Homo sapiens: one gene and its partner. The protein of the gene in region 1 interacts with the protein of each later gene in a biochemical or structural test. Each region holds a gene or a part of one and is shown in the gene's direction. Other genes may lie near its edges.

Region 1 (4,462 bases):
TTTCTATAGAGATGGGTTCTCGCTGTGTTGCACAGGCTGGTCTCAAATTCCTGTCCTCAAAGGATCCTCTCGCCTCGGCCTCCTAAAGTATTGGGATTACAGGCATGAGCCTCTGTGCCTGGCTGTAACTGACATGTTTTAAGCAGGGGAATGACATGCTCTAGTGAAAGCCAGTCTGGGCAGCTGGGTAGCTAATGAGGGGATTAGAGAGATTTTGTTGAATGAAAGGCAGATTGAGTCCTGCTACTCGCCCCCTTCATTCCCCTTCATTCATGCCTCATTCTTCCGCCTCCCAGCCGCCTCAACTGGCCAAAGGGAAGTGGAGGCCCTGCCACCTGTAGGGAGGGTCCCCTGGGGCTTGCCCACAGCAAACAGGAAGTCACAGCCTGGTGAGATGGGCCTGGGAATCAGCCACTGAGAAAGTGGGTCTCTTGGGTCCCTGAATTCTTTTTCTGAGTCCCTGCAGCAGTGAAAAAGACACAGAGGCACATAGAGAGTGACAGAGAAAGAGAGAGACAGAGAGGAGAGGCATGGGGCAGAATAAGAACAGATTTAGGAGTTAGAACTCCTGGGTTCTTTTAAAACAATTTTTCTTTTAGAGACAGGGTCTTGTTGTGTTGCCCGGACTGGAGCACAGTGGCTATTCCCAGGCATAATCATGGTGCACTGCAGCCTTGAACTCCTGGGCTCAAGCGATCCTTCTACCTCAGCCTCCCAAGGACCTGGGACCATAGGCGTGTACCACTGTGCCTGGCTTTTGCCTGGTTTTAAACTGAGGCAGTATGACTTGAGCTCTTAGGCATTAATTGAAGCTGTATCTCATTAACTGAGGGCTTATGATGTGCTGGACACTGGGCTAATAGTGCTGAACATATTGTCATTTTTAATCTTCACAAACAATATTTGTATAGGACTGTTTTCTTTTCTTTTTTTTTTTTGAAACAGAGTCTCACTCTGGTGCCCAGGCTGGAGTGCAGTGGTGTGATCTCGGCTCACTGCAACCTCCGCCTCCTGGTTTCCAGTGATTCTCCTGCCTCAGCCTCCTAAGTAGCTGGGATTACAGGTGTGCGCCACCATGCCCGGCTAATTTTTTTTTTTTTTTTTGAGAAGGAGTCTATGTGCCCAGCATTGTTCTAGAGCACTTGCAATTAGTGGTGAACAACACGGTCTCTACTCCAAGGGGCTCACATTCTTGTGCAGAAAACAGAAATGAACAAATAAACACACAAGATCATTTCCCGTGGTAGTGAGAGCTGGGATGAAAATAAAACAGCGTGGCAGGGAGGAGGCAAGTGTTGTGAGTCTGGAGGGTTCCTGGAGAATGGGGCCTGAGGCGTGACCACCGCCTTCCTCTCTGGGGGGACTGCCTGCCGCCCCCGCAGACACCCATGGTTGAGTGCCCTCCAGGCCCCTGCCTGCCCCAGCATCCCCTGCGCGAAGCTGGGTGCCCCGGAGAGTCTGACCACCATGCCACCTCCTCGCCTCCTCTTCTTCCTCCTCTTCCTCACCCCCATGGAAGTCAGGCCCGAGGAACCTCTAGTGGTGAAGGTGGAAGGTATGTCCAAAGGGCAGAAAGGGAAGGGATTGAGGCTGGAAACTTGAGTTGTGGCTGGGTGTCCTTGGCTGAGTAACTTACCCTCTCTGAGCCTCCATTTTCTTATTTGTAAAATTCAGGAAAGGGTTGGAAGGACTCTGCCGGCTCCTCCACTCCCAGCTTTTGGAGTCCTCTGCTCTATAACCTGGTGTGAGGAGTCGGGGGGCTTGGAGGTCCCCCCCACCCATGCCCACACCTCTCTCCCTCTCTCTCCACAGAGGGAGATAACGCTGTGCTGCAGTGCCTCAAGGGGACCTCAGATGGCCCCACTCAGCAGCTGACCTGGTCTCGGGAGTCCCCGCTTAAACCCTTCTTAAAACTCAGCCTGGGGCTGCCAGGCCTGGGAATCCACATGAGGCCCCTGGCCATCTGGCTTTTCATCTTCAACGTCTCTCAACAGATGGGGGGCTTCTACCTGTGCCAGCCGGGGCCCCCCTCTGAGAAGGCCTGGCAGCCTGGCTGGACAGTCAATGTGGAGGGCAGCGGTGAGGGCCGGGCTGGGGCAGGGGCAGGAGGAGAGAAGGGAGGCCACCATGGACAGAAGAGGTCCGCGGCCACAATGGAGCTGGAGAGAGGGGCTGGAGGGATTGAGGGCGAAACTCGGAGCTAGGTGGGCAGACTCCTGGGGCTTCGTGGCTTCAGTATGAGCTGCTTCCTGTCCCTCTACCTCTCACTGTCTTCTCTCTCTCTGCGGGTCTTTGTCTCTATTTATCTCTGTCTTTGAGTCTCTATCTCTCTCCCTCTCCTGGGTGTCTCTGCATTTGGTTCTGGGTCTCTTCCCAGGGGAGCTGTTCCGGTGGAATGTTTCGGACCTAGGTGGCCTGGGCTGTGGCCTGAAGAACAGGTCCTCAGAGGGCCCCAGCTCCCCTTCCGGGAAGCTCATGAGCCCCAAGCTGTATGTGTGGGCCAAAGACCGCCCTGAGATCTGGGAGGGAGAGCCTCCGTGTCTCCCACCGAGGGACAGCCTGAACCAGAGCCTCAGCCAGGGTATGGTGATGACTGGGGAGATGCCGGGAAGCGGGGGTCCAGAGACAGAGGGGAGGGGAAACTGAAGAGGTGAAACCCTGAGGATCAGGCTTTCCTTGTCTTATCTCTCCCTGTCCCAGACCTCACCATGGCCCCTGGCTCCACACTCTGGCTGTCCTGTGGGGTACCCCCTGACTCTGTGTCCAGGGGCCCCCTCTCCTGGACCCATGTGCACCCCAAGGGGCCTAAGTCATTGCTGAGCCTAGAGCTGAAGGACGATCGCCCGGCCAGAGATATGTGGGTAATGGAGACGGGTCTGTTGTTGCCCCGGGCCACAGCTCAAGACGCTGGAAAGTATTATTGTCACCGTGGCAACCTGACCATGTCATTCCACCTGGAGATCACTGCTCGGCCAGGTAGAGTTTCTCTCAACTGGGAGGCATCTGTGTGGGGGTACTGGGAAGAAGTGGAAGCCAGTCAATCTTAGATTCCCCCAACCCGAGGGCTACTCCCAGCCTCACCCCAAACCCCAACTTCCACACAGAACACTGACTCCAAGTCTTTCTTTTTTTTGACAGAGTCTCGCTCTGTTGCCTAGGCTGGAGTGCAGTGGTGCCATCTTGTCTTGGCTCACTGCAACCTCCGCCTCCCAGGTTCAAGTGATTCCCCTGCCTCAGCCTCCTGAGTAGCTGGGATTACAGGTGCCCACCACCACGCCTGGCTAATTTTTTTTTTTTTTTTGAGACGGAGTCTTGCACTGTCACCCAGGCTGGAGTGCAGTGGCACGATCTCAGCTCACTGCAACCTCCACCTTCCAGGTTCAAGTGATTCTCCTGCCTCAGCCTCCCGAGTAGCTGGGATTAAAGCCTGGCTAATTTTTTTTGTATTTTTAGTAGAGATGGGGTTTCATTATGTTGGCCAGGCTGGTCTCAAACTCCTGACCTCGTGATCCACCCGCCTCGGCCTCCCAAAGTGCTGGGATTACAGACATGAGCCACAGGGCCGGGCCAAGCCTAATTTTGTATTTTTAGTAGAGATGGGGTTTCTCCCTGTTGGACCAGGCTGGTCTTGAACTCCTGACTTCAGGTGATCTGCCTGCCTTGGCCTCCCAAAGTACTGGGATTACAGGCATAAGCCACCGCACCTGGCCTAGACTTCAAGTCTTTCTTCCCTCGCTTCCAAGACACTACTTTTCTGGGTCTTCACCTACCATTGCTTGCGCCTGCCCACCAGCTTGGGTGGAGTCTTCCTTCCTCCCCAACTCCTCACTCTTGGAGCCCTGGGCCCTCTTCTTATCCCTGTCTGCACACTTTCCTATTTGAACTTGACTCTCAATGGCTTCTTGGGTCACCATGCCTTGGTGACTCTATTCCAGGCTCCATACTCAGCCATCTCCTGTGCCATTTGATATCCCATGGACACCTCAGGCTCAACAGATACAAAATCAAACTCAATGTCTTCCCCAAGTATAGTCTTCTTGGTGGCCCAGTGTAAGCAGAGGGCACCACCACCTGCTCCCTCGCCCAGGCTAAGAACCTGGGCATCCTTCTTTTTCCTCACCCCGTCCAACAAACTGGTCACAGTGTTCTGCCAATTCTCTCTCCATGCAATCCTATCATGCTATCCTAACTGCAATTCACAAACCCAACCCCAACTTTCACTCCAAACTTGATCCAAGCAATGTGCTGGATCCCAACTGTAACCTTGCAAACTCAACTCTGCCCTTCACTTTGACCGTGACTATCCTTAATTGCAGCAGGAAACTGATCATTATGCTCCCCTCAATCCACACATTGCCTCTGAGTACAGCCATGGTTTGTCCACGATTTGCTCAAAGACACTGCCCCATGTCCTGTGCCAGGGTCTGTGACAATCCCTGACCTCCTGGGACATGGCTCCTTA
Region 2 (3,230 bases), on another chromosome or scaffold:
AACAGAGCTACATGCTTTAAACTTGCCCAAGTTCTACCTCCTTCCTTTGAACATTTCAGATTGGAGAACCAAGGAGTTGATTGCCTGAACACCTGAACATCCGTTTATGGGGGCCAGATAGAATTTGTTTTCAAATAGGCTTAACAGGCATCATTAAAATTTCATTCTGTGTGTTTTGTTTAGGCTTGAGGTGCTTAGAAGATGGGATAAAATATTCTACTTTTTTCTAAATTTTAACTTTGTTTCCTATGTGATTTTTTTAAATGTCCTTTCTAAAATATTCTAAAATTATTGATTCACAAGTGCCATGTTCAGAACTATAGAATATTACTGTTACATAATGTCTGCACAGCTGGTCCCTTGATTCAGTGGTAAGGTTTTTGTGTACACCCCCCTGCTTGCATTTTATTTCAGAACCACAAGTATTACCCAATATGTTACATGGAGAGGAACTATAAAGAATCCCTAAGGCAAAAAGAAGTCTCTAGAAAATGACTAGAGGTTTTTTTTTTAGCATAACAAATTTATTTAAAGAAAATTATTAAATTTATCTTCGCCTTGTTTTGCTTCTCCCAGTTCCTCCTCTTCTTGCCATTTTCCACTTGTCTTTCCCTCCCAATCAAGCCTGTGATCCTTACCTCCATGTGGGCCCTTCACCAGCTTGGGCCTCATCTCTGGTGTCCAGCATGTGTGGAAGTCACACGTTCCCTTGATGAACAGCACACACAGTCTCCTTACTTAGCTATAGGTTTCCAGCCTCCCTGTGACAGACAGGCATAATGAGGGGCTGAATAGGTGTTTGTAGCATTTTCGGGTATCCAGTGGTGTGCAAAATGGCTCATGTCATCACACCTCAGGTTATTGTAGAGAACTGGAAAGACAGAATCCATACTCCCTACCGCCAAGATTCTGACTTAGCTGTTGTGCAGCGGGAGATGTATGTCAGTCTATTTTAAAAGCTTCTCCAGTCAGCTAGACACAGTGGCTCATGCCTGTAATCTCAGCACTTTGGGAGGCTAAGGCAGGAGGATCGCTTGAGCTCAGGAGTTAGACACCAGCCTGAGCAATATAGCAAGTCTCTACAAAAAATTTTAAAAATTAGCTAAGTGTGGTGGCACATACCTATGGTCCCAGCTACTCAGGAGGCTGAGGTGGGAGGATTGCTTGAGCCCAGGAAGTCAAGGCTGCAGTGAGCTATGATCGTGCCACTGCACTCCAGCCTGGGCAAGAGTGAGACCCTGTCTCAAAAAAAAAAACCAAAAAAACAAAAAAACCCTTCCCTGGTGAATATAATGTATGCTCAGTCTTGAGAGTCACCATTTGGTTTGACCCATATTACAAAGCCCAGCCTTCTTTTTCCTCAGATGGTTTCATTTCTCAAAGGGGAGTGGAAGAGAAGGAAGGAGGAAAAAAACGTGCCTTCCTTCCTGGTGAACATGAAGCTCACTGAACCTAAAGGAGACTCACAGGCTAGAAACCAGTGTCCTTAGTAGTAGGGGCCACCTGGGGCTTCCGTGGCTTCTCCAGGCATACCTCCTGAGGTTCCACAGAATCCCCTTGCAGAAAGTACTTCTGATGAGCCACTGGGAACGTGTACTGTCCAAGCCCCCTTCTAGGGGAAATTCACTGCCACAGAAGCCAGCAGCCCTGGCTGTCCCAAGGGTGCATAAAAGGATAATAACTAAAAGGAGGGAATTAATTTTGTTGCCTACACCAGGGATAGATCGAGGGCACTGAAAGCATCATAAGTATAAACTCATCTCCACGTCAGCTTGTGGAGTCTGCTTTCTCGCTCTCTCTTTTTTTTTTTTTTTTGACAGAGTCTCACTCTGTCACGCAGGCTAGAGTTGCAGTGGTGCGATCTCAGCTCATTGCAACCTCCCCCTCTCTGGTTGGAGCGATTCTTCTCCTGCCTCAGCCTCCCTAGTAGCTGGAACTACAGGCACACACCATCTCGCCTGGCTAATTTTTGTATTTTTAGTAGAGATGGGGTTTCACCATGTTAGCCAGGCTGGTCTCGAACTCCTGACCTCAGGCGATCCGCCTGCCTCGGCTTCCCAAAGTGCTGGGATTACAAGTGTGAGCCACTGTGCCCGGTCGGGGTCTGCTTTCTCTTTATTCCCCGTCCTCTCACAAACTACATCCAGGGGCGGTAGCTGCTAAAAGGACTCAATTCTGCAACCTCAGCTTCTGACACCTTCAAATAAATTAAATGCTGGTCCTAGGGCTCGCTCCCCAGCTCTTCTGATGTCACTGCCAGGTTCCACAGCCAGTTGTCGGACATCTCCTGCTTCCTCAGCCAAGAACACCTCTCAGATGAGATCAAACCGCCCAGCTTTCCTCTTAGCATCTTCCTTTATTTTCCACTTCTGGCTGGTGGAAGAGAGATCGTAGTTCTCTATTCCCTACATTTTAACTCCACGAATATTTTAGATTAAGTGAAGTCTTGCTGTTCTTCCTGATGGAAATGGTAATTATAAACATACAAAGATACCCATACACACATTCTTTACTCAGGGCCCTCTTGTGCTTTGGCAAATGATAAAAATTATCTCTAACTCACACAACGACCCTGGAAGATCTGGACAATGCTATCACTATTTCACAGCTGAGAGATCGGGAGCATTTAAAGCCACAGAAGGAATAGATTGGCTTCGCTTCATATTGTTTCCTTGTGAAATAAAACCAGTGAAACACCTTTGTGTAGAATCTCCCTGACTCAGCTGAGTGTTCTGAGTAAGCAAGGGTATTACTTACAAGATGCACCATTTGAGCCCACACAGATGGGAGGGGAAATTTTTCCTTAAGTAATTTTATTTGGGTAGAAAAGTAATGCAAGAATTTAACTTACCATTCACACTTTTAAAGACAATTTGTAGAGACTACACTTCAGAATAAAATGTTTTGGCCAGCTACAGTGGCTCACACCTGTAATCACAATACTTTGGAGGGGCTGAATCAGGACGATCACTTGAGGCCAGGAGTTTGAGACCAGCCAGGACAACATTATGAGACCCTGTCTCTACAAAAAAAAAAATTAAGTTTCAGTAGCATTTATGTTCCATTTCATAACATGAATGTTACTAAAACTGATAAAAATTTTATCCTGAAAAGTTTTAACTTGATAGACGTGTAAGAGGAAAGCCTTCCAATTTAATTTCCTGTGTGCTGATAAATCTATTAAATACTTCAAGTCAGAGTGCCAAAAAGTGTCACAGAATTCCCGAGAT

The links.
Region 2: the proteins of CD19 (region 1) and LYN form a complex in vitro, tested with the Homo sapiens proteins (one study listed by BioGRID).

What each region holds. Positions count from the first base shown.
Region 1 is NC_000016.10:28,930,534-28,934,995, forward strand, and holds the start of CD19 (B-lymphocyte antigen CD19 isoform 2 precursor), read left to right. Parts: upstream 1-1,437; 5' UTR 1,438-1,467; coding exon 1,468-1,555; intron 1,556-1,812; coding exon 1,813-2,079; exon of another isoform or gene 2,080-2,377; coding exon 2,378-2,581; intron 2,582-2,700; coding exon 2,701-2,976; intron 2,977-4,462. UniProt on the Homo sapiens protein: Functions as a coreceptor for the B-cell antigen receptor complex (BCR) on B-lymphocytes. Decreases the threshold for activation of downstream signaling pathways and for triggering B-cell responses to antigens.
Region 2 is NC_000008.11:56,011,472-56,014,701, forward strand, and holds the end of LYN (tyrosine-protein kinase Lyn), read left to right. Parts: 3' UTR 1-2,698; downstream 2,699-3,230. UniProt on the Homo sapiens protein: Non-receptor tyrosine-protein kinase that transmits signals from cell surface receptors and plays an important role in the regulation of innate and adaptive immune responses, hematopoiesis, responses to growth factors and cytokines, integrin signaling, but also responses to DNA damage and genotoxic agents.